Homo sapiens: one gene and its partners. The protein of the gene in region 4 interacts with the protein of the main gene of each other region in a pairwise test. Each region holds a gene or a part of one and is shown on either strand. Other genes may lie near its edges.

Region 1 (8,340 bases), on a different chromosome or scaffold from region 4:
CTCTATGTTGGTCAGGCTGGTCTCTAACTCCCAACCTCAGGTGATCCGCCTGCCTTGGCCTCCCAAAGTGCTGGAATTAGAGGGGTGAGCCTCCGTGCCTGGCCTTATATAAATATTTTTATATATCTCATTATTGCATCAGGATAAATTCCTATACGTGGAATAATTGGGTTAGATTATGTAAGTATTTTGAAGCCTCATGGTATATATTGGTAAATCCCTATCTGGAAGTTTATACTGTTTGACGCAGGAGTTAAGGAACTAATTTTATAGAAGAAAATATTCGCCAGACGTGGTGGCCCACACCTGTAATTGTAACACTTTGGGAGGCCGAGGCGAGAGGATCACTGGAGCCTAGGAGTTTGAAACCAGCAATCTCTTAAAAAAGAAAAAAAACATGAAAAAGCTTGAATAAGTTCAAATTGCATCATGATTGCAGTTATAGAAAAATGTGTACGTGGACAAATATCAGGAGAGTGCATGAAATAAAAACTGTTCTGTAAGGGTGCTAACATTAGATTATAGTTGATATTTCAGATCTGTACACTTCCTGTAGAAAGTTTTGTCTTAGCCCTTTCGTTATGCATTTCAGCTAAGACCATTGGCTTTTTATTTTTTATTTTTATTTTATTTTATTTTATTTTTTTTTGAGACAGAGTCTTGCTCTGTTGCCCAGGTTGGAAAGCAGTGGTGCTGTCTTGGCTTACTGCAACCTCTGCCTCCTGGGTTCAAGCGATTCTCGTGCCTCGGCCTCCAAGTAGCTGGGATCATAGGCGCGTGCCACCATGCCCAACTAATTTTTTGTATTTTCAATAGAGACGGGGTTTCTCCATGTTACCCAGGCTAGTCTCAAACTCCTAGCCTCAAGTGATCCGCCCACCTCGGCCTCCCAAAGTGCTGGGATTACAAGTGTGAGCTGCCACACCCGGCCTATTGGTTTTTTAGAGAATTGTATAATAGTGTATCATAGTAGTTTTGTTCAGTCAACACAGCTGGAAAACTTGAGAGAAGCCTTCGTCTGTCTGATGTGTTAACAGATATTCCTCCAGAGCAGGTAGTCCTAGCCTGGAAAGGTGCCTGAGTAAGAGTATCACCTACTCAATGTTACCTTGGTAAGTGATTGACAAGGAAGACTCCAAGGGAACAAGAGGGTAAGGCAGGGAAACAAGTTGATAATCATTTGTGGTGACTTATTCCAGATAAGAATGGCTGAAGGCAGCTGTGGTCCAATGGGAACGGTCTTAGGGTTTGGAGGTCAGAAGGTGTAGGTTTGGGTTCTACCTCTGCCACTTGTTAGCTAAGTAATGTTAAATCACCTACCTTGGTTTCTTGGCTGTAAAATGAAAATTATAAAATAGTATAAAATAGTAATATTTTATACTATTATTTTTTACTATTTATAGTAATTATTTTTATACTATTATTGTACACTTATGTGTCAGGTACTGTTTTAAACACATTGCATAACAGGTTATTCCTCATAGCAACCCTATATATTGTGATATTATTATATATATTTTTAAGTTTTATTATTATTATTATTATTATTACTTTTAGAGATGGGGTCTTGCTACGTTGCCCAGGCTGGTCTTGAACTCCTGGGCTCAAGCAGTCCTCCCGCCTTGGCTTCCCAAAGTGCTGGGATTACAGGCATGAGCCACCTTGCCCAGCTGATACTATAATGCCTGTTTTGCAGATAAGGAAACTGAAGCTCAGAGAGGTTAAGTAACTTATGCAGGATCACAGCGAGTATGTAGTGAAGCTACTTTTGAAACCCAAAGTATCTCAGTTATGCTGTACTACCTCTCTTGAGGATAATGATGCTCAAAAAAGTGCTTTGCGAATTGTAAAACACCTACCAATAGTGACTAAAATACGTGAGGATATTCAGACAGTACACAGATAACAAATTAAGGAGACAATGGTGGGGCCAGGGGAAGAGGAACTCTCCCAGATATGCTTTAAGGCAGATCCTCTGAAGAGAGACCCTCTTAAGGAAATAATATATTTTCTTTAGAATTCTCTAATATTTATTATAGAACTACTGTGTTCAAGACTCTATAAGGTCGGGCGCGGTGGCTCATGCCTATAATACCAGCACTTTGGGAGGCCGAGGCGGGCAGATCACTTGAGGTCAGAAGTTCAAGACCAGCCTGGCCAACATGATGAAACCTTGTCTCTACTAAAAATACAAAAATTAGTGGGTGTGGTAGCGTGCTTCTGTAGTCCCAGCTACTCAGGAGGCCGAGACAGGAGAATCTCTTGAACCCAGGAGGTAGAGGTTGCAGTGAGCTGAGATCTCGCCACTGTACTCCAGCCTGGGCAATAGAGCAAGACTCTGTCTCAAAAAAATAAATAAGTAAATAAAGACCCTGTGGCAGGCACCACCTCATTATATCTCATCTAATCCTTTTCCCTGTTTTGGGATTTTTCAAAAAATTCTCTTAGAAAACCAAATGGTACTTAGAAAACCAAAACCAAGTTACTACCTCCCTAAAAGATAGGTAGTCTAACAATTATATCTTGCTGTATTGCTGTATGGTTTGAGGTTTTGTTGATGTGTCTTAGCATGGGATGATAAACTGAACTTCAGTGGAACTTGTTTTAAAGAAGTTACTGTATTTGTACCTTGCAGGCATAAAGGATTACAAATTTGAGAGATTTTATGTGGCCCTTTTAAAATGGCTTTGACTTGTTTTATTTTTTTGCGTGTCCTGGCCTGTTGTGGGGCATTTTAAAAAGTTAATTGAATTGGCCGGGTGGGGTGGCTCATGCCTGTAATCCTAGCACTTTGGAAGGCTAAGGCAGGCGGATCACTTGAGGTAAAGAGTTTGAGACCAGCCTGGCCAACATGGTGAAACCCCATCTGTACCAAAAATATATAAAAATTAACTGGGTGTGGTGGTGTGCGCCTGTAATCCCAGCTACTTGGGAGGCTGAGGCAGGAGAATTGCTTGAACCGAGAGGCGGAGGTTGCAGTGAGCCGAGATCATGCCACTGCACTCCAGCCTGGGCGACAGTTCAAGACTCCGTCTCAAAAAAAAAAAAAAAAAAAAGGCTTAATGAGTTAATTGACTTTTGCTGGAAGGCCAACTGATGTAGTAAAAATGGCCTGGGCTTTCCAGTGGTCATAGGTTCCAATCCCAATTCTGCCACTGTTGTAACTCAGTGACCTTGAGGAAGTTACGTTGTGACTTTGGTTTAATAATTTGTAGAAGGGGATTAGTAATAGCTTATTGGATTATCCTAAGGAATATGTAAGATTATATATTAAATTTCCTAGCGTGGTGCCAGCCTCAAAGGAGCTCTGCTCTGGATTGAGCCAAAGCTGTTTTCAGCAACTGTGTTGTATGGGGGCACATAAACGCAGTTGTATGCTTTTTCAAGAACCAATAAGAAGCAATAAAGAGATAATTGGAGGTGTGATTTTCCCTCCACAGGGCTGTGCTTAAGAGTAAAACTTCAGCGATGTTTACCATTTAAACATAAGGTAAGAAAGATGTATTTTTGTTGTTGTTGTTGTTGTAAAACAGCTTTGTTGAGATATAATTCACATACCACACAATTCACGTATTTAAAGTGTACCAATTCAGTGGTTTTTGCTTGTCTGTTACTCAGTTGATGGACATTTAGGTTGTTTCTACTTTTTGTCTATTATGAGTAATGCTGCTATGAACATTCATGTATAAGTTTTTGTGTAGGCATATATTTTCATTTCTTTTCCACCTGTGAGTGGAATCGCCCGGTCCTATGGTAACTCTGTGTTTAACATTTTGAGGAATTGTTTGTTTTCCACAGTGGCTGCACCATTCTGCGTTCCCACTTCTCCACATCCTTGCTAACATTTATTATTATCTTTGATTACAGGCATTCTAGTGGGTGTGAAGTGATGGTTTTTTGTTTTTGTTTTTTGAATCAGAGTCTCACTGTCACCCAGGCTGGAGTTCAGTGGCGCCATCTCAGCTTACTGCAACCTCTGCCTCTCAGGTTCAAGCGATTCTCCTGCCTCAGCCTCCCGAGTAGCTGGGACTACAGGTGCCCACCACCACGCCCAGCTAATTTTTTGTATTTTTAGTAGAGACGGGGTTTCACCATATTGGTCAGGCTGGTCTTGAACTCCTGACCTCATGATCCACCCGCCTCGGCCTCTCAAAGTGCTGGGATTACAGGCATGAGCCACTGTGCCTGGCCTTGTTTTTGTTTTTGAGACAAAGTCTTGCCCTGTCGCCAGGCTGGAGTGCAGTGGTGCAATCTCGGCTCACTGCAACCTCCGCCTCCAGGGTTCAAGCGATTCTCGTGCTTCAGCCTCCCAGGCAGTTTGGATTATAGGCATGTACCACCATTCCCGGCTAATTTTTTTTTATTTTTAGTAGAGACAGGGTTTCACCATGTTGGCCAGGCTGGTCTTGAACTCTTGGCCTCAAGTGATCCACTGCCTCGGCCTCCCAAAGTGCTGGGATTATAGGCATGAGCCACTGCACCCTGCTGTCATGGTGGTTGTGATTTTTATTTCTCTGATGGCTAATAATGTTGAGAACCTTTTCATGTGGTTTTTGGCCATTTGTGTATCTTTGGAGAGCTGTCTATTCAGATCCTTTGCCCATTTTAAAATAAGGATGTCTTTTTATTATTGAATTATAAGAGTTCTTTATATAGTCTAAATACAAGTCCCTTGTCAGATATGATTGGCAAATATGTTCTCCCATTCTGTGTGTTGTCTTTTCACTTTCTTGATGGTGTCCTTTACAGTACAAAAGTTTTAAATTTTCATAAAGTCTAATTTGTTTTTAATTTTTTAACTTGTGCTTTTGGTGTGATAATCTGAGGAAGATGTTTTTAACCCTACTATTGAGCAAGAATATGGATATCACAGTTAATTCATAGTAATTGGTTATCGCTCGTGAATGATTCGGCCTTGTCTCTTACTGCCTCTTGTAATTGCTGGGCAATTATGCCTTCTCTACCTGGCTGCTACCTAGCCTTTACACAGAGTACCCTGTCTACTTGGAGTTCCCTTCCTCCCATCTCATATGTTCAAATCCTACACATCTTTTTTGTTTGCTGTTGAGACAGGGTCTTGCTCTGTCTCCCAGGCTGGAGTGCAGTGGTGTGATCACTGCTTACTGCAGCCTCTATCTCCGAGGCTCAGCCTCCCAAGTAGCTAGGACTACAGGCGTGCACTGCCATGCCTGGCTAATTTTTTCTTAATTTTTGGTAGAGATGAGGTCTCTCTTTGTTGCCCAAGCTAGTCTCAAACTCCTGGGCTCAAGTGATCATCTTGCCTTGGCCTCTCAAAGTGTTGGGATTATAGGCATGAACCACTGGGCCTGGCCAAATCCTACCCACGTTTTAAGGCCCAGTGAAATACTATTTTATTTTCCATGATATCAGTCCTGATTTCTTTCTTCTTTTTAAGATGAATTTTTATTTATCTTTTAAATTTTTTTTTTTATTTTTTGTATTCACCTTTCCATACTACTAGTCCTGATTTCTGTAACTAAAGCTATTTCTTTTTTTGAATTGCCGTGGCTCTTTCTTTTTGTTTTTTTTAAAGACAGGGTCTCACCCTGTTGCCCAAGCTGGAATATAGTGGTATGATTACAGCTCACTGAACCTTTGATCTCCCAGGCTCAAGTGAGCCTCCCTCCTTACCCTCCCAAGTAGCTGGAACCACAGGTATATGCCACCATGCCCAGCTAATTTTATTTTTTGTAGTGACAGAGTCTCACTATGTTGCCCAAGCTGTTCGTGAACTCCTGGGCTCAAGCAGTCCTCCCGCCTTGGTTTCCCAAAGTGTTTCGGATTACAGGCGTGAGCCACTGCACCCAGCCCCGTGGCTCTTTCTTTGTCTTCTGATGTAGAGAGTGTCCTTTTCTAACTTGTGTTCTGTTTGTTTTTCATCTTCCCTCCTGGACTGTCAACTTCTCTCTCTTTTCTTTTTTTTTTTTTTTTGTTTGCGATGGAATCTCGCTCTGTCGCCCAGGCTGGAGGGCAGTGGTGCGATCTCGGCCCAGTGCAGCCTCTGACTCCTGGGTTCAAGCGATTATCCTGCCTCAGCCTCCCAAATAGCTGGGATTACAGGCGCATACCACCACACCCAGCTAAATTTTTGTATTTTTAGTAGAGACAGGGTTTTGCCATGTTGGCCAGTTTGGTCTTGAACTCCTGACTTCAGGTGATACACCCGCCTTAGCCTCCCAAAGTGCTGGGATCACAGGCATGAGCCACCATGCCTGACCAGCTAGCTGTCAGCTTCTTGAAGTCAAGATTCATATATGATACATCTCTGTGTTCCTGCTATGATCTTATACATATTTGGAGCTCAATAAATACGTCTTAAATTGAGTAAATTAATAAATTATTATACTAGTGGTTTATGATGCCCTGTAAATTTTATTTTTCATTTTTAACTGTTTTAATTACAATGTTTAACTTTTTATTTGAAATGAAAATAATGAAAGAAAAGAAATAAAATAGTGAAGAATAGTACAAAGAAATTCCATATATCCTTCACCCAGATTCAGATTCACTAATTGTTAACATTTTGCCACATTTGGTTTATCATTAATTTCTCTCTATATATGTACACACACATACACATATTTTCTGGAAATGTTTGAGTGCATTTGTAATGCCCCCTTACTCTAAATACTATAGGATGTATTTCCTGAAAACAAGGACATTCTCTTACATTACCACAGTATAAATTTCTAAACCAGGACATTGATACAGTACTGTCATCTCATCTACAGCACGTATTCCAATGGGTAACATCCTTCATGGCGGTCCCTCCTCCTGGCTCTGCTCCTCTCCCCCATCATACATTGCATTAGTTGCCATGTCTCTTTAGTCTCATTTAATTTAGAGTAGTTCCTTAGCCTTTATTTCATGATCTTGATATTTTTGAAGAATGTAAACCAGATATTTTATAGATTGTCCCTCAAATTGAGTTTTCTGATGTTTCCTGGTTAGATTCAGTTTGTGCATTTTTGGCAAGAATACTGAATAAATGTGTTCTCATTGCATCACATCAGAGGCCTATAAATTCAGTTTGTCCCATTATTGGTAACAGCTCCCCTCATCAATTGGTTACCCTGAAGTATAGTTCATATAGGAATAGCTGCATAAATGCTGCCTTTTCCCCTTTATCACTTTTAGAATAATGAGTCCTGTGTAATTTTAAACTGAAGTAAGTCAGTATAGAGTGATTCTATACCTGTTGCTTTGAGGTCTAGAATAAGAGTGTTTTGCTACTAGGAGAAAGGTGTTTTGTTTTGTTTTGTTTTGTTTTGTTGAGACGGAGTCTCGCTCTGTCACCCAGGCTGGAGTGCAGTGGCGCAGTCTCAGCTCACTGTAACCTCCACCTCCCGGGTTCAAGGGATTCTCCTGCCTCAGCCTCCTGAGTAGCTGGTAATACACGCCCGGCTAATTTTTTGTATTTTTAGTAGAGTTGGGGTTTTACTGTGTTAGCCAGGATGGTCTCGATCTCCTGACCTCGTGATCCGCCTGCCTCGGCCTCCCAAATTGCTGGGATTACAGGCATGAGCCACCACGCCCGGCTTGTTTTGTTTTTTAAAAAAAATTGGGGCCAGGTGCAGTGGCTCACGCCTATAATCTCTGTACTTTGGGAGGCCTAGATGGGCGGATCACTTAACCTCAGGAATTCAAGACCAGCTTGGGCAATATGGCGATACGCGGTCTCTACAAAAAAATAGAGACGAGGGAGGAGAGGGGTGGGAGTGTGGGAGCTGAGGTGGGAGGATCACCTGAGCCCAGGAAGTCGAGGCTGTAGTGAGACATGATCGCGCCACTGCACTCCAGCCTAGGCGACAGAGTAAGACCTGTCTCAAAAAAAAAAAAAAAAAAAAGATTGGACTAGATGACCTTTAAGGTCCCTTTTAACTATAATAAGTTATGATTTTTCTCACTCATGAGAAATGTTTATCTCCGTAGTAAATAAGTAAATAAAAATTAGTTCATATGTTCCAGTGTTCTCTGGAAAGTAGACGTCTTTATTACAGCATACTCTCTTTACCACAGGATTTGCAATAATTTTGTAGGTTGTCTTAAAAGCTCTGGGTCTTGGAGGGTAGCTCATGTCTATAGGTGCAGCAGGGCCAGGAGGGATAGCTTAACCAGTATTATACTTGAGAATAAATTTAGCATGATAATAATGAATGAGAAAAGAAGGATGCTGAAAACTATATTGTGATCCCATTTTTGTAAAACAAGCAATGTGAAGAAACTTCCAACCCTGATATGTGGGTGTGTGTGTGTGTAAAATCTGTGTAAGATTATGTGGGTAAAGAGAAGAATATGGAAGAAACCACACTAGATTGT
Region 2 (8,340 bases), on a different chromosome or scaffold from region 4:
CATTCCATCCATACCACCCATCTCTTACTTATTTTTGGCTTCTTTTTTGTTCTGTTTCTTTTCTCAGGCTCTTTTTCCCTTTTACTGTTTCCTATTCCTCATTCTCTCTTTTCCTCTTGTTTATATTCTCTTACTTTGACATCTGCCTTTTTTCTTCCTTCTTTTCATCATCATCTGCCTATGTCTTAACCCTGCATGGGTGGCATGGCCCCTCTGGGAGGCACTGAGGAAATATTTGTTAACCTAACCTAGAAAAGAGTATCTTTAAAGATGATAATGTGTAAAATTTCAGGGATATCTCACCAAACCCAAAGGTAGGAAGTAGGGGCAAGTCTCACCAAAATTGGAACCAGAAGGCAGTTCAGGGAACTAGTCATTCCCTTTCCTGTGCCACATCTCACTGTAGATAGCTTGTGGTGGAGAATGTCTAGCTCCCAGGTTTAGATGTCTGCCAGGTGAACACTAAAGAACACAGACCAGCCCTAATTCCACATTCACAGAAGAGACAGTCTTTTTGGTCCAACTTTGGTCAAAGTGCAAAGATAGCATAATAATATGGTTCCACAGCCCTATGCCTGTGAATGGGCTGAAGAAGAAGAGCAGTTTTCATAGGAGGAGTTGCTGTGGACTTGACAAATCTCCCAAGACACAAGGAGCAAACCAATTTGTTGTTAGAAAATAGTAGTAGCTGGTCATCACTGGCTGACCACAGAACGCTGTTCTTTTCTTAGGATGCCCTTTAAGCCACAAACTGGTCACTATAATTTCTTAGCCAGCATCAAATAGGATAGTAGCTCATTTGACATGCGACTTCAGAATTTTGCATTAACCAAAATGTTTAGGTTTTCCTGGTATGATGATTGTTGCTTTGTGATGATAACCTGGTAGTACTACAGAACCCTCTAGTGCTTTCTTTCAAAACTGTTACGTTTAGAAGATTAAATTATGTTTACGATGTTATTAAATGTGCCCTATCATCTCCTTATTTTGAAAATTAGGAATTGCTTTTAACTAGAATATGTTATTAGGCAAAAGCCTCATTTCCAAACCAGATTGAATAGTAGAATGTACCATACATATACTACGTAGAATGTCAGAGCCCAAAGGATCCTCAGAGATTATCTTCCATAGGTGGCAAACACTTAGCCCAGATGCTAGCACTCCATCCTGCTATTCCCATGCTAGTAATTAACCACAGCACTGTTTTCCTCTGAGCTTAGACTTGGCCTCAGAACCCTTCTATAGCACTCTGGGTAACAACCCTCAACTGCTTAGAGTTAGCTCTAAAAAACAAAACTTGAGGCCAAGCACAGTGGCTCACGTCTGTAATCCCAGCACTTTGGGAGGCTGAGGTGGGTGGATCACCTGAGGTGAGGAGTTCAAGACCAGCCTGGCCACCATGGTGAAACCCCGTCCTTACTAAAAATACAAAGAGTAGCCTGGTGTGGTGGTAGGCGCCTGTAATCCCAGCTACTGGGGAGGCTGAGAAGGAGAATTGCTTGAACCCTGGAGGTGGAGGTTGCAGTGAGCTGAGATTGCGCCACTGCACTTCAGCCCAGGCGACAGAGCAAGACTTCTTCTCAAAAAAATTAAATTAAATAAAAAATTAATAATAATAAAAACTTAAAAAAAAATGAAACTTGTTTGCCATCCCACTATTCAAAGGAAAAATTGAAGCTCTGAAAAGTTAAGTGACGTCCGCAAGGTCGCACAGTTGATTAGTAGCAGTGGAAATTAGAATTCCCCTCTGCTCCTCATTGCCTCCTCTAGTACTGACTTCCCAGGATGGGCTATGAGCCTCTTCCATAGCATTCTTAAGAGTTTGGAAAGAAAATTTCTATCTTCCCTTTATAACAGTAAGAAAAGATAGAAGAAACCGCTTAGAATTCTGAATTGCCATGCTCCCACTTGGACGGGGCTGTAGGGTTAGTCTAGAAGCAGTCTCATGAACCTGGGCAGTGACTGTCTTGGAGTTCACACATAGAATCACAATGAGCCTAGCCCTTCTGTAAAATACAGTAACCCTGCAACAACCATAGGCTTATTGTATTGAAATTCTCATGGAAAATAGGGGGGTCACAGTTTCTTCAACAAATAAATTGCACAGGAAAGGTGAGATAGAGTGGAATAATCTAAAGATTAAGAGACTTTATAGAAAAATTCCTTAGGCTAATTAGCCATCGGGGAAATGCAAATTCACATTATAAGCGGATGTCACACTAGACAGCTATCAGAATGGCCTGAAAAGAACGGAAAAGAACCAAGTGTGGGTGAGAGAGGAACTAGAACTCTCATATTCTGCTGGTGGCAGTGTAACTTAATACAACCACTGTGGAAAACAGTCTGGCAATGTCTATTCATACTGAACATTTGTATACCCTATGAGCCAGCAGCTCCAACTCCTAAGTATGAATCTAACAGAAATGCACTCATATGTTTACCAAAAGGCATGTACTAGAATGTTCACAGCAGCACATTGACCCAAACTGTAGAATACCCAAATGTCCATTCCTAGCTGAATGAATGAAGTCTGGTTTATTCACATGTAGGCATACTACATAGCAAAGAGAATGAATGTAAGTGCTCACACACATAATTTGAGTGAAAGAAGCCGGTCACAGAAGAGGACAGATTCTCCTACGTGTTTCTCTGTATGTTAGGTTTGGTTTTTAAAGTGTTTAGACCAGCTCTTAGTGGCCTGAAATGTAATATCTTTTGTGTTTGCATCAGCTTTTATTTCCTTTTCATAACTCTCAGAAAAACACCTGGCACATGCTTTTGGGCTCATGTTTCTGGGTGTAGAAGTCTATTAATTGAGAGGATGGAGTGCAGAAATACAGATCACCTTTCTCTGCCTTTTCCTCTGCCCAGACCACCTGGTCTGCAGAAGGGACAGGTAGCACCAATTTCACATACATGAAAATGCCAGACTTTAAAATGATGTTCTATAAATATGAAATGTTGATTGCTATGAGATTACTGCACATTCGACAAAAGCCGTGCACACCCACAAATAGCTTGCTTTGCTCTCTAAGATCCTATCAACGGAGTGTACTTGGCCTGTATTTAGACAAAGCCGGTGGTGTTGTTTACATCTTTGGCAGCTTGCTCAGTGTGGCTTTTCTATGAACAAAATGTGTGCCCAGCCCGGTGGGTCTGGCTTCTCAGCCAAGCGATTGTGTATTGATTGGTGGTGGGAAATGAGATATCTTTTCAGTTGGTCCATGTCCAAAGAAAAAAGTGCCTAATTGGACATCTGAGATGATATGGAAAAAATGAGAGCCTGCTGCTCTCATAGCAGGGGATTTCTGATGTATTCTCTGTAGTGCCTACCTTGGAATACAGTTCTGTGGTTTTCTTTGAGCAAAGCTGGCACTTGTCCCTTCTCACAGACCTAGGCAGGACATGATGTGTGGCTTTGATAAATTAAGGTTTTTATCCTATAAGCTGGATCCTTTCTCTCAGTGAGTACTATATTCTGTATCCTATCTCCATTAATGGCACTAATCTATGCAACCAAAACCTGGAAACCTGGGTCTCAGCCTGTGTCCCCCTTTCCTCCTCCTACCTAGTCTCCAAATTCCACTGATTCGCCCTCCTTCGGGGAGGGAGAATAGCTCCCCAAACCATTTCATTCTCTGTCCCCACCACCTATGAATCGCACCGGCCACTCTAAAGCAGTTCCACTAGCAGCTTTCACTGCCTTCTCTTCTAACCTCAGACATCTGTCAGAGAGCTTTTTCAAACTAGATCTGATGGAGTTTACTTACCTGCTTAAAATCATTCTGCAGCTTCCCATTGCCTACAGAATGAAGACCAAACACCCTGGCCCTCACTGCCCTTCAGAACCCGGCCCCATTCATCCCCCACCTTTCCCCTCTTCCTGCCATAGTATTCAGCCATTGACAGTTTTCTGGAATATACCATTTTTATACCTCAGTACCGTTTCATGTGTTCTGCCCAAAATATTCTTCCTCATCTTTTTCTAAACAGCAAACATTTTATCATTTAATATTCAACTTCTATAACCTCACCACGTCACCCTCTGGAAAAGTTGCTTTCTTCTGTTTGCTTGCACTGTGCCTTGTACATATGTCTGTCAGCATTTATCACACTAGAATGAAATGATCTACTTCCATGTCTGCCTTCCCTACCTGACCAGGAGCTGAAGAAGGCTAGGGATTCCACTCTATCCTTAGCTTTTCCTACACAGGGCTTATTAACCCTAGAAGGCCCCCAAATTTTGCTGTGTGAGTGAATGAAATCTCACTGGGCATAAGACCATCACCTCCAATTCTGATATTCATGGAGTATTATGGACCATTAATTATTCAAGATTCAAGTGAGGATAATAACCTGGAGAAATTGTACTTTTAATCTTGATAATTATGGTGTCTTAATACCTTTCCTTCTTCTAGGATTATGAATTAAAGTAACTACCTTGAATCTTTTGTGCATTAAAGCATAGTTGGACCCAAAAATCAGGTCTTGTCACTTGCCATTCCTCTATAATAGCCCCCTTTATTCATTTAACACTTTATATACTTTCTCTGTCTTCCTCACAAGTGGTCCTCTGAAGTACATGTTAGTCTGCTTTAAGAATGGGAAACTGAGGTTCAGGATGTTCAGTAACCTCTCTGAGGACATTCGGCTGGTAAATGTTAGATTTGGGATTTGAACTCAAGTCCATTTGACTCCAGAACTCCTGTTCTGTCTACTACTCGAGTGATCTTCAAACTTTTTTGCCTGTGAAACCCCTTACAGAATTTAGAAAAACTATAAAGTCCATCAAACATTTTAAATCGGCATGTAAAAATTTTTCATCTTGAATTTATGTACTTGCCAAGAATATAATTCCTGGCATGTTGTAAATATTGACATTTTTAAATAAAACTGTTAACATCATTCTTTTAAATGTACCCAATGAGAAATAATAATGATTTAGTTATCCATTAAAAATATGTAAGTAAACTCTTAACAGTCAGGAGCTTTTTATTGTTTTTTTCTTCTTCTTCTTAAACCTAAGTTTTTTATTGCATCTTCACTTCCGCCAGATTCTTTTCCTAACATACATTTTGTCATGAATTATTTTATTAACATACTGCAACATATTTAGTCCATAAGTTAGAATTAATTTTTAAAAATTTCCTGTAACTAAAAACAAGGTTCTACAAACATTTCAGAATTTCTCCTAAATAAGAAGTCAATTTTTTTTTTTTTTTTTGAGACAGATTCTCATTCTGTCAGCCAAGCTGGAGTGCAGCAGTGGCATGATCTCGGCTCACTGCAACCTCCCGGGTTCGAGCAATTCTCCTGTCTCAGCCTCCCAAGTAGCTGGGTTTACAGGTGCTTGCCACAACGCCCAGCTAATTTTTGTACTTTTAGTAGAGATAGGGTTTTGCCATGTTGGCCAGGCTGGTCTCGAACTCCTGACCTCAAGTGATCTGCCCGCCTTGGCCTCCCAAAGTTTTGGGATTACAGGTGTGAGCCACTGCACCCAGTACCAGAAGTCAATTTTTACTAGAAATGCTTGTCTTTATAAGATGAATGAGAATTAAATCGTACATGTATAGATGGCTGTTGTTTAATGCTAGAATGAGACACGATTCAGCATCAATTTTATTCCTATTTTTCATTTTTATAGCTATAAGGACTTTGAAACCTTATTTACATAAATAAGTAGATGGAAATGGAAGTTCTGTTTAAAGTAGTATCATACAGTTCTTAGCACTTTGAATTTATGTGCTAAAAAAATCATATCACAGTCTTTCATCAAAAAATATTTATAATGACCTGTCAGCTTTCAGTTTAGTAAGGTACTCATCAGAGAATTGGAAATGCTGCTGACTTGCAAAAGGATTTGCCTGCAGTCATTAAAGTTACTTGCTTTCTCAATCCTGCACAGTATTTTGAATTATCCCTTTGTTTGTTACCCTGGAAAATGGGAGAAAGGCTATAGTAAAAGAGAATGTCTTGATCCAGGCACTAGTCAGGCAAGTCAGTTTCAGAAAAAGAAGCATATGGAAACTGAGTATGTAGAAATTGATTTTCTTAAAACTACTCTGGCATACGCCCTAGAAAGTTTTGTGGACCACCTGAGGTATACATACCCCCGGTTGAAGAGTGCTGTGTGTCCCCATGAGGTTTTCTCCAGTTCAACCCCTCCTTTCACCTGTCCATAGGTTATTGCAGCCGAAGGAGAAATGAATGCATCCAGGGCTCTGAAAGAAGCCTCCATGGTCATCACTGAATCTCCTGCAGCCCTTCAGCTCCGATACCTGCAGACACTGACCACCATTGCTGCTGAGAAAAACTCAACAATTGTCTTCCCTCTGCCCATAGATATGCTGCAAGGAATCATAGGGGCAAAACACAGCCATCTAGGCTAGTGTAGAGATGAGCGCTAGCCTTCCAAGCATGAAGTCGGGGACCAAATTAGCCTTTAACTCATAAAGAGAGGGTAGGGCTTTTCTTTTTCCATATGTCAATTGTGGTGTTCCCAGAATGTATAGCAGTTATAAAAATAGGTGAAAGAATTGTTAGCTTGTAAATACTGAGAGATTGGTGATTTATATAAGGTAATCTGTTAGTCTTAAAATAGTTAAAAGTTTGTATTTTTAGATTATTATGTAGTAGGTTAGATCCCTCTTGTTTTGACTTCCACTGACTCATTCTGAACCCCCTAAGCACCCAGGCCAGAGGCAAGAACCTGGGCTGTAACTGCCACCTGACACCGCTGACTGGCTAAATGCTTTGCAGAAAGTGATGACCTTACACCACAACCAGCTTCTCCAGGTCATATGTGCCTTACCTCCAGAGAGTCTTTTTTTTTTTTTTTCTGAGATGGAGTTTCACTCTTGTTGCCCAGGCTGGAGTGCAATAGCATGATCTCGGCTCACTGCAACCTCCGCCTCCTGGGTTCAAGAGATTCTCCTGCCTCAGCCTCCCCAGTAGCTGGGATTACAGGCTCATGCCACCATGCCCAGCTAATTTTTGTATTATTATTATTGTTTTTTAGTAGAGACGGGGTTTCACCATGTTGGCCAGGCTAGTCACGAACTCCTAACCTCAGGTGATCCACCCACCTCTGCCTCCCAAAGTGCTGGGATTACAGGCATGAGCTACCACACCTGGTTTGGAGAGTCTTAATTAAGGAAATTTCCCTAATGTTCATTTATTTTCTAAATCCAGACCGTGTTTCAGAATAATCCTTACTTGAGAGTAGCCATTTTCTTGCCTGTACTTGTCAGAACTAGAGGAAATAGCCAAGACTAATGAAAAAGATTACTCTAACCCTTAAAAGACTTTTAAATTCACTACTAGAGTGGTCATTTTAAAAATACATCCATGTTTTAACTTATTTGAGCCTTCTTTATGAGTAAATGATTCCTCCTTGTTCTGTCTTTCAAACCAGCTAAATATTTGTCACAAAAGTGCTTTTTTCTCACTGTTGCCTATTTTCATATATCAGGTTTTAAATAGTTTTAATTTTTTAATAAAATTTTCTCTACGTTCTATATGCAATTGTTATATATCTATTTGAATAGCTGAAGGACTAAAATACTTTTTTAAGAGATAACTTCAGGAAACCATTATATTTTACTATCTGCATGCTGTTAACTGTGGTACACTGTGAAATATGTTGATTACAAACCCATTCATTACATAGTATAAGGAATTCACAGTATATTGACTATATAGTGTCTAATGATCTTGGGCAGATACTGTCAAACTTACAATATCTATATAGATGTAGGTCTTTTTAAATTTACCTAGTCATTCTTCTATCATGTATATTGATGCTGAAAGAGGAACTGGTCAGCTCCTCTGGACAACAAATTCTTAGTCTATAATATTAGGAGACATCTTCTGTTTTGCAAATGTCTGTGAATCTGAGCAACCTGGCATTCTGCTTACTGGCCAGAAAGCTGGCGGGTGACATTTGTAACATTTCCTCTTTGAGACTCTGAGTTCACCTAGAGAAGTCTAAGCATAACAGCTTTCTTTCCCAGCACGAGCCTTTATAGCTCTCTTTAGCTCAACCACTCTGTCCATCCAGCCAATGGATGTCCCTTCCCCTGTACCCCAATTTCAAGCTTATTTTAGGAAGCCTTGAACTACCATGTATCCTGGCTCCTAGCTGAGTTTATTAGAGGTATGGAGCAGTGCAACTTAAACTCAAGTTGCACTTACATTTTGAATTTTAAAATGATGGTTTTATCTGTTGTGTGAAGTGGTTCACCCTTGAGGACCAGGAGCCTCCATATCCTGACTGAAAACCTTTTCTGAGACTTAGAGTAACAGTGCTTTTGGTTCCTTGAGTTCTCCTGTCTCCAGATA
Region 3 (8,340 bases), on a different chromosome or scaffold from region 4:
TTCTCAGCACCACACTGCACTTATTCCAAAATTGACCACATAGTTGAAGTAAAGCACTCCTCAGCAAATATAAAAGAACAGAAATTATAACAAACTGTCTCTCAGACCACACTGCAATCAAACTAGAATTCAGGATTAAGAAACTGACTCAAAACTGCTCAACTACATGGAAACTGAACAACCTGCTCCTGAATGACTACTGGGTACATAACGAAATGAAGACAGAAATAAAGATGTTCTTTGAAACCAACGAGAACAAAGACACAACATACCAGAATCTCTGGGACACATTCAAAGCAGTGTATAGAGGGAAATTTAGAGCACTAAATGCCCACAAGAGAAAGCAGGAAAGATCTAAAATTGACACGCTAACATCACAATTAAAAGAACTAGAGAAGCAAGAGCAAACACATTCAAAAGCAAGCAGAAGGCAAGAAATAACTAACATCAGGGCAGAACTGAAGGAAATAGAGACACAAAAAAACCCTTCAAACAACCAATAAATCCAGGAGCTGGTTTTCTGAAAAGATCAACAAAATTGATAGACCGCTAGCAAGACTAATAAAGAAAAGAGAGAAGAATCAAATAGACGCAATAAAAAATGATAAAGGGGATATCACCACTGATCCCACAGAAATACAAACTACCATCTGAGAATACTATAAACACCTCGAAGAAATGGATAAATTCCTCGACACATACACCCTCCCAAGACTAAAACCAGGAAGAAGTTGAATCTCTGAATAGACCAATAACAGGCTCTGAAATTGAGGCAAAAATTAATAGCTTACCAACCAAAAAAAGTCCAGGACCAGATGGATTCACAGCCGAATTCTACCAGAGGTACAAGGAGGAGCTGTTACCATTCCTTCTGAAACTATTCCAATCAATAGAAAAAGAGGGAATCCTCCCTAACTCATTTTATGAGGCCAGCATCATCCTGATACCAAAGCCTGGCAGAGACACAACAACAAAAAAAAAGAACTTTAGACCAATATCCCTGATGAACATCGACGCAAAAATCCTCAATAAAATACTGGCAAACCGAATCCAGCAGCACATCAAAAAGCTTATCCACCATGATCAAGTGGGCTTCAACCCTGGGATGCAAGGCTGGTTCAACATACGCAAATCAATAAATGTAATCCAGCATATAAACAGAACCAATGACAAAAACCGTATGATTATCTCAACAGATGCAGAAAAGGCCTTTGACAAAATTCAACAACCCTTCATGCTAGAAACTCTCAATAAATTACGTATTGATGGCACGTATCTCAAAATAATAAGAGCTATCTATGACAAACCCACAGCTGATATCATACTGAATGGGCAAAAACTGGAAGCATTCCCTTTGAAAACTGGCACAAGACAGGGATGCCCTCTCTCACCACTCCTATTCAACATAGTGTTGGAAGTTCTGGCCAGGGCAATCAGGCAGGAGAGGGAAATAAAGGGCATTCAATCAGGAAAAGAGGAAGTCAAATTGTCCCTGTTTGCAGATGACATGATTGTATATTTAGAAAACCCCATTGTCTCAGCCCAAAATCTCCTTAAGCTTATAAGCAACTTCAGCAAAGTCTCAGGATACAAAATCAATGTGCAAAAATCACAAGCATTCTTATACACCAATAACAGACAAACAGAGAGCCAAATCATGAGTGAACTCCCATTCACAATTGCTTCAAAGAGAATAAAATACCTAGGAATCCAACTTACAAGGGATGTGAAGGACCTCTTCAAGGAGAACTACAAACCACTGCTCAATGAAATTAAAGAGGACACAAACAAATGGAAGAACGTTCCATGCTCCTGGATAAGAAGAATCAATATCATGAAAATGGCCATACTGCCCAAGGTAATTTATAGATTCAATGCCATCCCCATCAAGCTACCAATGACTTTCTTCACAGAATTGGAAAAAACTACTTTAAAGTTCATATGGAACCAAAAAAGAGCCTGCATCGCCAAGTCAATCCTAAGCCAAAAGAACTAAGCTGGAGGCATCATGCTACCTGACTTCAAACTATACTACAAGGCTACTAGCAGTAACCAAAACAGCATGGTACTGCTACCAAAACAGAGATATAGATCAATGGAACAGAACAGAGCCCTCAGAAATAATGCCACATATCTACAACCATCTGATATTTGACAAACCTGACAAAAACAAGAAATGGGGAAAGGATTCCCTATTTAATAAATGGTACTGGGAAAACTGGCTAGCTATACATAGAAAGCTGAAGCTGGATCCCCCTTCCTTACACCTTATACAAAAATTAATTCAAGATGGATTAAAGACTTAAATCTTAGACCTAAAACCATAAAAACCCTAGAAGAAAACCTAGGCAATACCATTCAGGACATAGGCATGGGCAAGGACTTCATGTCTAAAACACCAAAAGCAATGGCAACAAAAGCCAAAATTGACAAATGGGATCTAAGTAAACTAAAGAGCTTCTTTCTGCACAGCAAAAGAAACTACCATCAGAGTGAACAGGCAACCTACAGAATGGGAGAAAATTTTCACAACCTACTCATCTGACAAAGGGCTAATATCCAGAATCTAAAATGAACTCAAACAAATTTACAAGAAAAAAACAAACAACCCCATCAAAAAGTGGGCGAAGGACATGAACAGACACTTCTCAAAAGAAGACATTTATGCAGCCAACAGACACATGAAAAAATGCTCATCATCAATGGCCATCAGAGAAATGCAAATCAAAACCACAATGAGATACCATCTCACACCAGTTAGAATGGCGATCATTAAAAAGTCAGGAAACAACAGGTGCGGGAGAGGAGGTGGAGGAATAGGAACACTTTTACACTGTTGGTGGGACTGTAAACTAGTTCAACCATTGTGGAAGTCAGTGTGGCGATTCCTCAGGGATCTAGAACTAGAAATACCATTTGACCCAGCCATCCCAGCCATCCCATTACTAGGTATATACCCAAAGGATTATAAATCATGCTGCTATAAAGACACATGTACATGTATGTTTATTGTGGCACTATTCACAATAGCAAAGACTTGGAACCAACCCAAATGTCCAACAATGATAGACTGGATTAAGAAAATGTGGCACATATACACCATGGAATACTATGCAGCCATAAAAAAGGATGAGTTCATGTCCTTTGTAGGGACATGGATGAAGCTGGAAACCATCATTCTCAGCAAAGTATCGCAAGGACAAAAAAACCAAACACCGCATGTTCTTGCTCATAGTTGGGAATTGAACAACGACAACACATGGACACAGGAAGGGGAACATCACACACTGGGGCTTGTTTTTGGGTGGGGGGAGTGGGGAGGGATAGCATTAGGAGGTATACCTAATGTTAAATGACGAGTTAATGGGTGCAGCACACCAACATGGCACAAGTATACATATGTAACAAACCTGCATGTTGTGCACATGTACCCTAAAACTTAAAGTATAATTAAAAAAAAGGAAAAAAAAAAACGAGAAAAATAATTTTTTTTAAAAAAAGATGAATGATAATCACACCCAGAAAATCCTCCAGAAAGGATTTATTTTTACTTCTGGCAGGCAAGTAGACCAGACACTCGTAATCCCCGATCTCTGTCATTCAACTGCTATTGCAATGATTTAAATCAGGACTCTTGTCCCTATGGGAGCTAGATTAATTCTGGATCGCCCCTTATTCTCAAGGAACAGCCTTTCAGAGTCCCAACCAAATGCCAAGGAGTGTTAATAAGGGTCCTTCCAACGTGGCAGGTCCTGACTTCAATTTCTGTCCCCAGCCTTGTGAATCTGGCAAGAGCTCTGCTGAGAAACTTAGATAAACCTCCATTCAAACAAGCAGTCTTCCACTGCCAGAAAGAGGGTTTCTTAATCTCTCATTAATACCAGGTAACTTAAGGTTTGGCTACCTATACTGTTTCCAGATTTCCCCTTCCTTGACTAGAAGAGCAATGGGCTAGAAGTCTGAAGATCTGAGCTCTGATGTGTTGGTCAGTAACTGGTCCTATAACCTTTAGGCTAGATCCCTCAAAGTTCCCTTACCCTTAAATGTAAAATACATCTGGATAAAAAATCTTTCAGTTTATTCTTGCTCTAAAATAATTACTAACACCCCTGCCAACTCTTAGACAATTCTCCTGCGGATCCATCAAAGGCAGCCCAGTGACTCATTAAAACTCTCTATTTTCATGAGAACACTATAACAAACGAACTTAAACTACAACAGTAAAAATTTGGATTTACAAAGCAAGCTGTTAAACTTTAGAACTGTGGTCATTCACACTGCAAGTCCTATTATTTGTTGCCTTGGCTACTAAACCATGCAAAGCTGACGAGAACCCACCTATGGCTGAAAATAAAGAGAAAAGCCCAACCTAAAAGGAGAAAAGAGTCACTATAGGGCACCACTATGCAAAATGGCAAGCAGTACAGTTGACGCTTGAACAACATGAATTTGAACTACATGGGCCCACTTTTATGGGGCTTTTCTTCTGCCTCTACCGCTCCTGATACAGCATGAACAACCTCTCCTCTTCCTCCTCCTCCTGAGCTACTCAACATAAAGACAACGAGGATGAAGACCTTTATGATGTTCCACTTCCACTTAATAAATATTAGGTTGGAGCAAAAGTAATTGCGCGTTTTGCCATTACTTTTATATATTTATTTTATTATTATTATTTTTTGGAGTCTCACTCTGTTGCCCATGCTGGAGTGCAGTGGTGTGATCTCTGCTCTCTTCAACCTCTACCTCCCGCATTCAAGTGATTCTCCTGCCTCAGCCTCCCGAGTAACTGAGACTACAGGCATGCACCAGCATGCCTGGCTTTTTTTTTTTTTTTTTGAGATGGAGTTCCACTCTTGTTCCCCAGGCTGGAGTGCAATGGCACGATGTCAGCTCACTGCAACTTCCACCTCCTGGGCTCAAGCGATTCTCCTGCCTTAGCCTCCCGAGTAGCTGGGATTACAGGCACCCGTACCACACCCAGCTAATTTTTGTATTTTTAGTGGAGATGGGGTTTCACCATGTTGGCCAGGCTGGTCTCGAACTCCTGACCTCAAGTGATCCGCTTGCCTCGGCCTCCCAAAGTGCTGGGATTACAGGCATGAGCCACCGCACCCAGCCACGCCTGGTTAATTTTTGTATTTTTAGTAGAGACGGGGTTTTACCATGTTGGCCAGGCTGGTCTCAAACTCCTGACTTCAGGTGATCCGCCCACCTCACCCACCTTGCAATTACTTTTAATGGCAAAACCCACAATTACGTTTGCACAAACTGAATAGTAAATATATTTTCTTTTCCTTATAATATTCTTAATAACATTTTCTGTTCTCTAGCTTATTGTAAGAATACAGTATATAATACATATAGCATATAAAATATGTGTTAATTGACTGTTTATGTTATTGGTAAGGCTTCCAGTCAACAGTAGGCTATCAGTAGTTAAGTTTTGGGGAAGTCAAATGTTACACACAAATTTTTGACTGTGCAGGGGACCAGTGCCCCGACCCCCACATTGTTCAAGGGTCAACTATAAACAAACATGCCTGAGTCATAGCTCCCTTAAATCATTCCTTTTACGAAGAAGGATGCTGATGGTGTGTCTGGAAGCAGGTCAAAGCAGAAGAGAGTCAAACTTTGGCTTTTGGGTTTTCGAAAGCTAAAATTCTATATTTTCTTCAGCAGAAAAGAATACCAGAAGATACACATTCTAATTGTTTTCACAATGGACAAAAGAAACAGTGGTTGAAATTAATGACAGGCTGAAACAAAGTCCTACTTTCAGAAGCACAGAGAAGACCTAATGCAGTCACTTCATAACTCAGAGAACATTCTTCTGCACAAACTTATCAACTGCTGCCTAAGTTCCTCACTGCATCCCCTGCCACCTGCATGCACAAACCACCACTTCCCTGACTACAGAATGTACCTCTTCTCTATGGGAAGTGGAGTGGAACCCAGACATTGGTGTCTCTTGTGTAGTATCTCCCCTTCCCTGCAGTATCTGGATCTATCAAAAAGCAAAGGGATCCATTCCAAAAACAGTGCTACAGCCAACACCCCCAGAGGGCCTCATCACTAGGCTTTTTGATGTTCCAGTAACGTATCAGCTAGAAGCAACTGAACTCTAGGTCAGTCCTTACTTTCTGCAAGAGACCCTGTGTGTGGTAGAAAAGGTGCTAGCTGAGAAGCTATGCATGAATCCTAGCTCTGCCACTGTCTAGCTATGCTCATTCAGACACTCAAAATGTACTAAGAACCTACTACGGGCCAGACATCCTGCTGGGCATTATGATATAAAGGTGTCAAGACACAAAAGGTGCCTGCTGTTATAGAGCTAAAACTCAAAGAACACTTCCCATTGCCCCATTGTGCTAAATGATGGTGCCTACACCAAGTCATCTCTGAGGTTCTTTTTGACTATAAGGTGCTACAGTTTTACAATCTGAGATACAGCACTGGTTGGCTACAATATCTGTGTGGTCTTTGGCATAGCCTCCCTGGGCTTTAGTTTCCTTATCTATAAAGCAAACAGGTTCTATTTGGAAATGTCTCCCTTTACCTTATGCAGCCACAGTGGGAGGTTTCCAGACTCGCTCTGCAGTGAGTTCTTCTGCTGAACAGCCGCCCAGCAATATGAATCCACAAAGGCAGCCTGACGCCAGGAGAAAGAACTTGGAGAGAAACAGCTTATCTGTGTACCTAAGAAGCAAAACAGATAGTTTCCAATGAAAACACAGCTTACCTGGACTCTTGTCCCCATCTCACATGTTTTTAGTTTTGTCTAAGTTAGGGAGCACCAGGACAGGAGGTGGAGACATTAGGACAGAACTAAAAACAAACACCCAAGTTCATATTAAAACAAAAGATCACAGAGTGGTTTTGGCCAACACTGGTCATGATAGCAGCTTGGCCTCAGTTGGGGAAAAATTCTTAAAAGAAGTAGAACTACCATACAAAGAAAAAGGAAGCAGGAAAAGAACCAGAGCCCAGAATTCAAGAGGCAAGCGTGGAGAGACCTGGTTTAGTTTGGAGTAAGGATTGAGAAAAAGGAAAGGTTATGTGGGAGGGTCAGTGAGGCACCTGAATGCGGAAAATTGGACTAAAAAAACAAGTTCTTTTAGAACAAAGAAGCAAAGAACTATTAGCCTGAGGAAGAGAAAGCTGAAGGGAACATTGGTAATAGAACACTGGATGGGAAATCAGTGGTTTCCTACCTCCTGTAACACTAAAGAAGAAACAGGCTGAAACTGCAGCCCAACTGGTTTACATTTGGAAGGGAAACGCTCACGACTGCAAACCTCCCAACAGCAGATGGGCGGTAGATGGGGAATGGGAAGACCTGGGTCCTGGTGGGGCTCTACCGTTCACTCGCTCTTCTGGGAAGGGACTCTGGGACTTGGTTTTCTCCTCTGCAAACTGAAGATTACATCTCTCTGCAGATGCTACCGTCACATCTGTAAAACCTACCATCTGGAAGACTCTTTGTGCTCCTGACACACACAGGCCATGGAGGGAAACTGACCAATAGGATCGTAAGGCTCAGGCAGGGCTGTGTCCTCCCCTTCCCACCAGTAGCACAGGGGCTGGCGCTAGGCCTTGCCTGGCCCAGCCCTGATCCCCTGTCCCCACCTGGCACATTCAAAGGTGTGTGTGTCACAGGCATAGGGGTCAGAGCTAAGGCTCCATGACAGGCACACTCTCTTCCACATCCATCACAGCCTGGGAGTGTGCTCAGTGACTGGGCTCTGACATGAGTCATATTTAAATTTGACTCTGCCACTCTCAGCAGGGTGAGTCACAGCTGATAAGTCATTAATTTCCCAAAGCCTGGGATCTCTAAAATAGGAATGACATTAATAGTGTATCCACATTACAGATTTGTTGTGGTGAATACAAAAATTAAAAAAACACACAAAAAACAAAAAACAAAACTTGCTGCAGCACTTGCGAGGGTGTCTGGTTCCCAGAAGTTGCTGAATTAGTGTTACATTTTTCTAGATGAAGCAACAAGTAGATTCTCATATTGCCTTAAAGACTGGGATGTGCCTACCATTCTCCCTTCCCACCCTATGGAGCAATGATAGGGACAGTGGGAAGTTACGGAGCTGGATTTCCCTAATCCCTGGCACATAAAAGGCCTCGACACTCATCTTTGCCTGGGGAGGGAGTGGCCTTTATGCTTATGGTACAAGAGAGAAGTGATGGAGATGTTTTCAGGAGAGTATATTCTTGTGGTAGGAGTGGTATGCGGCAAAGCCCTGAGCATTTCTTCCCCATCAGGGGCCTGTGCACCCACAGCCATCAAGAAAGGACTTGTCAGCAAGAGGCTTTACAGGAAAT
Region 4 (7,183 bases):
CTGCCTCCTGGGTTCAAGAGATTCTCGTGCTTCACCCTCCCGAGTAGCTAAGACTACAGGCACCACCATGCCCAGCTAATTTTTTTTGTATTTTTAGTAGAGACAGGGTTTCACTATGTTGGTCTTGATCTCTTGACCTCGTGATCTGCTCGCCTCAGCCTCCTAAAGTGCTGGGATTACAGGTGTGAGCCACCGAGCCTGACCTGGAAGTAACTCTTTTAAAGATAAAGTGGGAATAAACTTTTATTGGAAAATGTTTCATTTTCCTTTGCTCTGCCTTTTGGGATTGTAAGTCTCTCCCCATCAACCCGGACTGATTTCCATTCCATTTTCATTTAATCCAGGTATCACAGCTCCCAAAGTTTTTCTAGTCCCACATGTCCACCGAATTGGATACTTGCCAGGCCTTTAAATGGCTACCACAGCTACTACTTCCAGGCTCCAAGATGGCTACCAGGCCAGTTCTATGAATAGTGCCTGGATAGCAGTGGAGGAGAGGCTTGGAATGGGTCTTCCACAGACAGTGTCTAGATAAGAGGGTTTTTGTTGTTGTTGTTGTTGTTGGGATGGAGATTCACTCTTGGTGCCCAGGCTGGAGTGCAATGGCGTGATCTCGACTCACTGCAACCTCCACCTTCCGGGTTCAAGCGATTCTCCTGCCTCAGTCTCTTGAGTAGCTGGGATTATAGGCATGTGCCAACACTCCCAGCTAATTTTTGTATTTTTAGTAGAGACAGGGTTTCACCATGTTACCCAGGCTGGTCTCGAACTCCTGACCTCAGGTGATCTGCCTGCCTCGGCCTCCCAAAGTGCTGGGATTACAGAGGTGAGCCACTGCACCCAGCTGGTCTTTTGTTTTTAATTAAAAAAATATATATATTAGGGGGGCTCACTGTGTTTCTCAGTCTGGTCTCGAACTCCTGGCCTCAAGTGAGTCTCCCACCTCAGCCTTCCAAAGTGCTGGGGTTACAGGTGTGAGCCTTGATGCCTGGTCTAGATAAGAGGTTTTAAATGGAGAAATTAGAGCACTTCTAGGGAGAGGAGCAAACTCAAGTCTTTTATTGTGGGAAAGGGGGAAACACAGTGTTCCCCTGGCTCAGAAGGGAAAGGAGGGCCACGGGTGACACCTTGGGAAGCTTTCTTTTCTTCATAGAATGACTAACAGGAAATTATGAGGGGTACCCTCATTTTCTTTTTTTCTTTACTTTCTTTTTTTTTTTTTTTTTTTTTTTTTTTTGAGACGGAGTCTTGCTCTGTCACCTAGGCTGGAGTGCAGTGGCACGATGTCAGCTCACTGCAACCTCCGCCTCCCCGGTTCAAAAGATTCTCATGCCTCAGTCTCCCGAGTAGCTGGGATTACAGGCACGTGCCACAACACCTGGCTAATTTTTGTATTTTTAGTAGAGACGGGGTTTTACCATGTTGGCTAGGCTGGTCTGGAACTCCTGATCTCAAGTGATCCACCTACCTTGGCCTCCCAAAGTGCAGGGATTACAGGTGTGAGCCACTGCACCCCACCAGGGTACCCTCATTTTCTATGACCTCCAGAAATCGAGGGATTCAGTTTGTGAATCCTTCCTTCCTCTCCTAGTTCCTTGTGCAATGCAAAGCCTCTTTAGTGTTCACCTGCAGAGTCGTGCCCAGGCTGTAGGAGACTCTGGGTTTGGAGAATCATGGCACCCTCATCCTGTCATTTTCATCAGTTGTGTCTTCAATCCTTTCTTCACCCCTCCACACTCAAACCTCTCTCCTTCTAGAAGCAGATTTTTCCTTTTCCTTCCTCTTCTCCTCCCTTACTCCCCTACTTTTCCCAGTCCCCCAAACATACCAGGCTCAGAGCTGGATTCATTCAGCATTTATTGTAGCAAAGAGTGGGTAGGGACAGGAGCTCTAGGACTGGCCAGTGGGTGTTCTAGAGGCCAGCTGGGGTTGGAAGACAATGGTCTGGACACTTCACTGGGTGGCAGGCTGTGTTCCAAGTTCCACGAAATAGCTCAAGAAGTTAACCAGTTCCGTTCCAGCCTTCTTGATCAGGGGTGTCAGCTGCTCCTTTGACTTTTCAAAGTAAGACCTGGATAGGTGAGGGGATTAGAGTTTAATCTGAGGGACCCTAGGCACTGGCAGGGGCCTTGGTGGTGGTGGGAGGTCAGAGCAGACTGACTCAGGTCCCCAAACTCTAGTGCCTGGTCCATCGCATGGCAAAGCCCCTAGGTAGGAATAGAGTCAAGACCTTTGCTAGGTAGAGGGACAGACTCTAGAGACTGAAATTCAAGGCCCAGTTCTTGCTGTTCCTCTCTATCTAAGAGACGTGTGGGATCTTTGGGTGATGAAATACTTTTTCTCTGCAATTTAAGCCTAATCTGCCCTAATCCCCACCCCTGGGTTCAGACTTCTGTGGGACCTCTCATCTTCCCTTCTTTCTCTCCACAGTTCCACAGCCCCTGAACCCCTTGCCCTGAGACTTACTTGGCCTCGGCCTGAAGCTCTGGGCTCTTGACCTTCTCCATCAGGTCCTTGCCATAGTCAGTCACGGTCTGGAAGTACTGAGAAACCAGGCTCTCCACACATGGCTCCTTTGCCTGTCTCCGAACCAAAGCTCCTGCCCACACACACACACACACACACACACACACACACACACACTCTTTTCAGCTGGGTCCACAGCAGTGAATCCTGGCCTCCTGCCATACCTCTGCCAGTACCCACCCCAGCTCTCTGCCCCCTCCCCAAAAAGGTATCCAGCCAGATCTTTGGATGGGCTTTCTGGGCTTTAGAGAGGGAATGATCTTCCTTTTGAGCCCTTTGGTTGCCAGACCTGGATATAAGAGCACAGGCAGATAGGTAGCTATAACCACCAGCACATTCTCCCTTTTGGCCCCCTCTCCATATCACACCCACCTTCAAGGCTGCAGATGGTGAGGAGTAGCACAGTTGCTGCGAGCAGCTTCATGTTGGTAACAGTGGGGAGGGCGGCCTAGGAAGAGGGTGGTGGGGGTTTGGGGGACACTGAAGCCAAATGGGCTTCAGCTCCTCCCCAGGGATCTCCCTACCTGCTGCCCATTCCAACCTGGCTCTCTCCCTCTCCACAACTGAAGCCCAGGCCTCTTTGGATGCTGCTCACACATCTTGCCTCCTTATCTTACCTAGCCAGCGTCTCTGTCCTTGGTGTCTGTGCCTGCCCTGGCTGGAGAGGAAGGGGCTATATACCTGTCTGTTTACCCACCCCCTGTCAGGTGACAGGGACTATGGATGGGCCCAGTGGGGCAGGGATTATGTGAGGATAAACAAGTTGGAGAAATGGGGGAGGAGAGGACAAGCACATGGAAGACTCATGGTGATGGGGTGAGAGGCAGGGGGTACAGCTCTTAGTGGAGGCTAAGGGGGTACACTTCAGGTATATTTGAGGTTCATTCTTTTGAGATCTGAGGTCCTTGGACTTGAGTGCAACAGGAAGCAGGATTCCAAGTTATTTCTCTGGAAAGCTCTGACATATCAACCCATGGAATACCATCAACCCATCATACCATGGAAAGCTCATGGTGTCTTTATTCCATTATGGGTAGATCTCATCTCTCAACCTTATCCCACTTTACTGCAACTTGGCAGAGAGATATTGGGGAGCAGAAGAAAGGAGAAAGGAATTGAAATCAGGGACAGGGTTGAGGGCTATGGGGGTTAGGGGAATGAGGGTCGGGTAAGAGGGCAAGTGTAAATGATCTTGTCCGTTTTTGAGTTAATGTGTAATGAGACGGGGAGAAAACAGGAGAGCCCAGAATGACCTGGATGCTGATCACTGAACATACCCTACCCCCAGTAAAACAAATTCAGAAAACAGCTTCCGCCCGTCCCCTCCCAATGGAGGGCTCTGGCAGGAAAAGAGGTGAATAAGAGGCTTCTACCAGGGTAAAGGTTGAAGGCACCTGGTCATTTGATCACCTTATCAGTTCTAGGCAGTGATTAGCCAATATTGAGTCAGCAGGGGCAATAGCCCTGGCCCTTGTCTCACTCCTGTTGGGGGTGGGGGAGGGGGAGAGGTACATTCCCAGGTTCAAAGCATTTGGGTGAAATCAGTTAAATAGATATCAGAAGCTTTTGTATCTTTCACCCTTTTGCCCCCCAAGCATACTCGCTGAGTATGTGGAACATTCCTGAGGGTGACAGTGGAGGCGCAAAGCTGATGAGGGAGGTAGTGACCAGAGACCAAGAAATCTTTGTTTTTTAACTTTTGTTTTAAATTCAGAAGTATATGTGCAGGTTTTTTTGTTTGTTTTCCTGAGACGGAGTTTTGCTCTTGTTGCTCAGGCTGGAGCGTAATGGCATGATCTCGGCTCACTGCAACCTCCACCTCCCGGGTTCAAGGATTCTCCTGCCTCAGCATCCCAAGTAGCTGGGATTACAGACATGCGCCACCACGCCCGGGTAATTTTGTACTTTTAGTAGAGACGGGGTTTCCCCATGTTGGTCAGGCTGGTCTTGAACTCCCGACCTCAGGTGATCTGCCCGCCTCGGCCTCCCAAAGTGCTAGGATTACAGGCATCAGCCACCGCCCCTGGCCTATATATGCAAGTTTGTTACACACGTAAACTTGTGTCATGGGGATTTGTTGTACAGATTATTTCATCACCCAGGTATTAAGCCTAATATCCATTAGTTATTTTTCCTGATCTTCTCCCTCCTCCCACCCTTCACCCTCCAAGACCAAGAACTCTTACTCCATTTTCAATTATTCCCCTGTGGAGCGCTTAGTGCTTGAGGTCAGCCCTTTGGCTTGTCCCTGGTCCTGGGATGGAGTGCCTTTGGGGGCCAGGCTCCATATTCCTAGATTTTATTTGCCAACTCTGCCTTGGGACTCAGGGAAGGAAGGGTTAAATACAGAAAGCAGCTGTTTCAGCGAATAGTTCTGCTAGAACTTACTCCTCTGCGCCAAACTCTCACACCCGTTTCCATTCCACCAAGTGGTCAAGAGCGGGGACTTCGAGAGATGTAGACCTCCAGAAGAGAAGGGTGGGTCCCTGTTCTAGGGAGTGCTGCGCTTAATGAGTAGTACTCATTTGGAGGTGTGCTGTGGAGGGCTGTGAGGAGGATTTCCCATGGGTTCTTTGGAGAGAAGGGAGCGATAGAAATGAACCAGGGTTCCAAAGAAGTCTTCATAATCGTTCTTTCTGCCACCCTTCACACTATGCCAGTCTACAAGCTGTAGTTCCACTTTTCTCATGGATGAAACTACATGGGTGGAAGGAGCTTCAGTGGCCCAAGCTACAAGATGCTCCCTCTAGTGTCTTGTACGCTCACAAGTTTTTTTCCGACCTTGGAGAGGCCTAGTGATCTAAAGCCTTCCACTTAAGTCTAAGGGGCCACCAATCAAGTCCTGCCCGCCTCTGCAGCTCCAGGGTTGAAGCTCTTGGGCCGTCAGACCTGCCACTCATTTTCTTCCTCCCTTCCCATTGGCCCATGGTAAATAGCGAGGCTTTTTTTTTTTTTTTTTTTTTTCATTGATTGGGCGGGGCCCAATCAGGGTTGGGTTGGGTCTTTGACAGCTTTCTTTGCCAGATTCAAAGATGGCGCTTACGGCCACGCTAAGAATGCAGCGTGAAGCTGCAGTTCTGCCATCACTCAAGATGGCTGCCCCCATCAAGATGACCGGGGTGTGCCGGGGGGAAAGGGGCAGCATGATGGTCTGAGATGGTAAGGGATACTGCACCATTGCGGGCCTGGTCTTGGGGCCTGGGAATGAAGAATAGAGAGGCTAGGGAGCTAGGTGAAGTCTGTGGTGGGGGCTAGGATCAGAGAAAGGGAGAGAGGACAAGGGTGACAAGTGGGGGTGAGAGATCAAAGATGGGGCGGGAGTGTGCCTAGGGTTGTCTCTCCATGAGTGCTCTCCTTCCCTACTCTTCCTGTTCCAGGTGTAGCGTCGGACCATGTGGAAGTTTCTGAGGCTGGGGAGCCGGATAATGGGGGGTGGGGCCCGTTGGGGGGTAAAGGGGCAATAGCGTCCTTTCACAGGCTAACCTCGGCTCTTCCCAGTCCTCTGGACTAAAATGGGGAACACATTGGGCCTGGCACCAATGGGGACTTTGCCCCGCCGGAGCCCCCGCCGAGAGGAACCCCTGCCCAACCCTGGGAGCTTCGATGAGCTGCACCGTCTATGCAAAGGTGAGAACTTGGCACTTGGGTGTCTCAGGATGAAGGGGCAGAGGAGTGGAGGGTCTTGAATGCCGGATGTCCGGCGATGGGAGCAGGAAAGGGGAGATCATAGCTGGGTCATGCAGCCTCAGGGAGGATCAGGTGCCCAAATGAAGTGGAGCATTTCATTGCAGGACTTGAAAGGAGGTTAATTCCTCCAAAGTGTTCCCTATGGGATTGAAAGGGGAGACTATCTTTTGGGGTAGGGGTTCTTTGTCTGTGCTTATTCCTTCCCTTCCCCTACCCCCTTCAGATGTATTCCCAGCACAGATGGAGGGAGTGAAGCTCGTTGTCAACAAGGTTCTGAGCAGCCATTTCCAGGTGCTCCCACTTCTCTGGCCCCTCCTTACTATTCCCCCTTTCCTGTCCCTGGATCATCTTCTCCTTTCCTTTGTACTCCAGCCCTAGCCAGTCTATGTGGGACAAATGAGGGAGGATGTGGGGTTCTCTTTACCTCCGTGCCTGTGGGACTTGTTGCTTTTAATCCGATGACCTTCTCTGTATATGTTGGAATATTTAGGATTCTTGAGAGGCCCTCTGGATGGGGAAAAGACTAAGGGTGGGATGAGGGATTGAAGTGGAGCAGGAATGCGCTTTTCTCCACTGAATCCTCTTTTCCTCAGGTGGCGCACACTATACACATGAGTGCCCTGGGCTTGCCGGGATATCACCTCCATGCGGCCTATGCAGGGGATTGGCAGCTCAGTCCCACTGAGGTGAGGGCTCCACACACCTGGGTCATCTCCCTAAAAACCAATCTGGGACCCAGGTCTGGAGGAAGAGGAATTGTGTGTGTTATGGGGAGGAATGGGCCGTAACCTGATTCTCTGTGTCTTTTCTGAATGAGAGAGGGTAGAGAAACATTTTCTGTGAAGAGCCCAGAGTGTGTCTTTGTGACTCCACCAGGGGGCGCTGTGCACTCTTAATGAAGTTCTATATTTGGGTTTAGGCTGAGTGGTGCCATCCGGCTCAGCCTTACTACTGTGTACACCCTTCCACA

Evidence for each region.
Region 1: the proteins of APOA2 (region 4) and CIAO2A interact in binary tests that used the Homo sapiens proteins (3 or more experiments, as listed by UniProt).
Region 2: the proteins of APOA2 (region 4) and STOM interact in binary tests that used the Homo sapiens proteins (3 or more experiments, as listed by UniProt).
Region 3: the proteins of APOA2 (region 4) and PANX1 interact in binary tests that used the Homo sapiens proteins (3 or more experiments, as listed by UniProt).

The regions. Positions count from the first base shown.
Region 1 is NC_000015.10:64,076,252-64,084,591, reverse strand, and holds part of CIAO2A (cytosolic iron-sulfur assembly component 2A), read left to right. Parts: intron 1-3,440; coding exon 3,441-3,490; intron 3,491-8,340. UniProt on the Homo sapiens protein: Component of the cytosolic iron-sulfur protein assembly (CIA) complex, a multiprotein complex that mediates the incorporation of iron-sulfur cluster into extramitochondrial Fe/S proteins.
Region 2 is NC_000009.12:121,339,251-121,347,590, reverse strand, and holds part of STOM (stomatin), read left to right. Parts: intron 1-6,182; coding exon 6,183-6,389; 3' UTR 6,390-7,949; coding exon of another isoform or gene 7,950-7,970; 3' UTR 7,971-8,340. UniProt on the Homo sapiens protein: Regulates ion channel activity and transmembrane ion transport. Regulates ASIC2 and ASIC3 channel activity.
Region 3 is NC_000011.10:94,151,850-94,160,189, reverse strand, and holds part of PANX1 (pannexin-1), read right to left. Parts: intron 6,700-8,340; coding exon 6,560-6,699; intron 1-6,559. UniProt on the Homo sapiens protein: Ion channel involved in a variety of physiological functions such as blood pressure regulation, apoptotic cell clearance and oogenesis.
Region 4 is NC_000001.11:161,220,452-161,227,634, forward strand, and holds APOA2 (apolipoprotein A-II preproprotein), read right to left. Parts: upstream 3,178-7,183; 5' UTR 3,144-3,177; intron 2,975-3,143; 5' UTR 2,951-2,974; coding exon 2,899-2,950; intron 2,600-2,898; coding exon 2,467-2,599; intron 2,072-2,466; coding exon 1,954-2,071; 3' UTR 1,841-1,953; downstream 1-1,840. Other genes in the region: TOMM40L (mitochondrial import receptor subunit TOM40B), read left to right, coding at 6,039-6,153, 6,437-6,504, 6,807-6,899. UniProt on the Homo sapiens protein: May stabilize HDL (high density lipoprotein) structure by its association with lipids, and affect the HDL metabolism.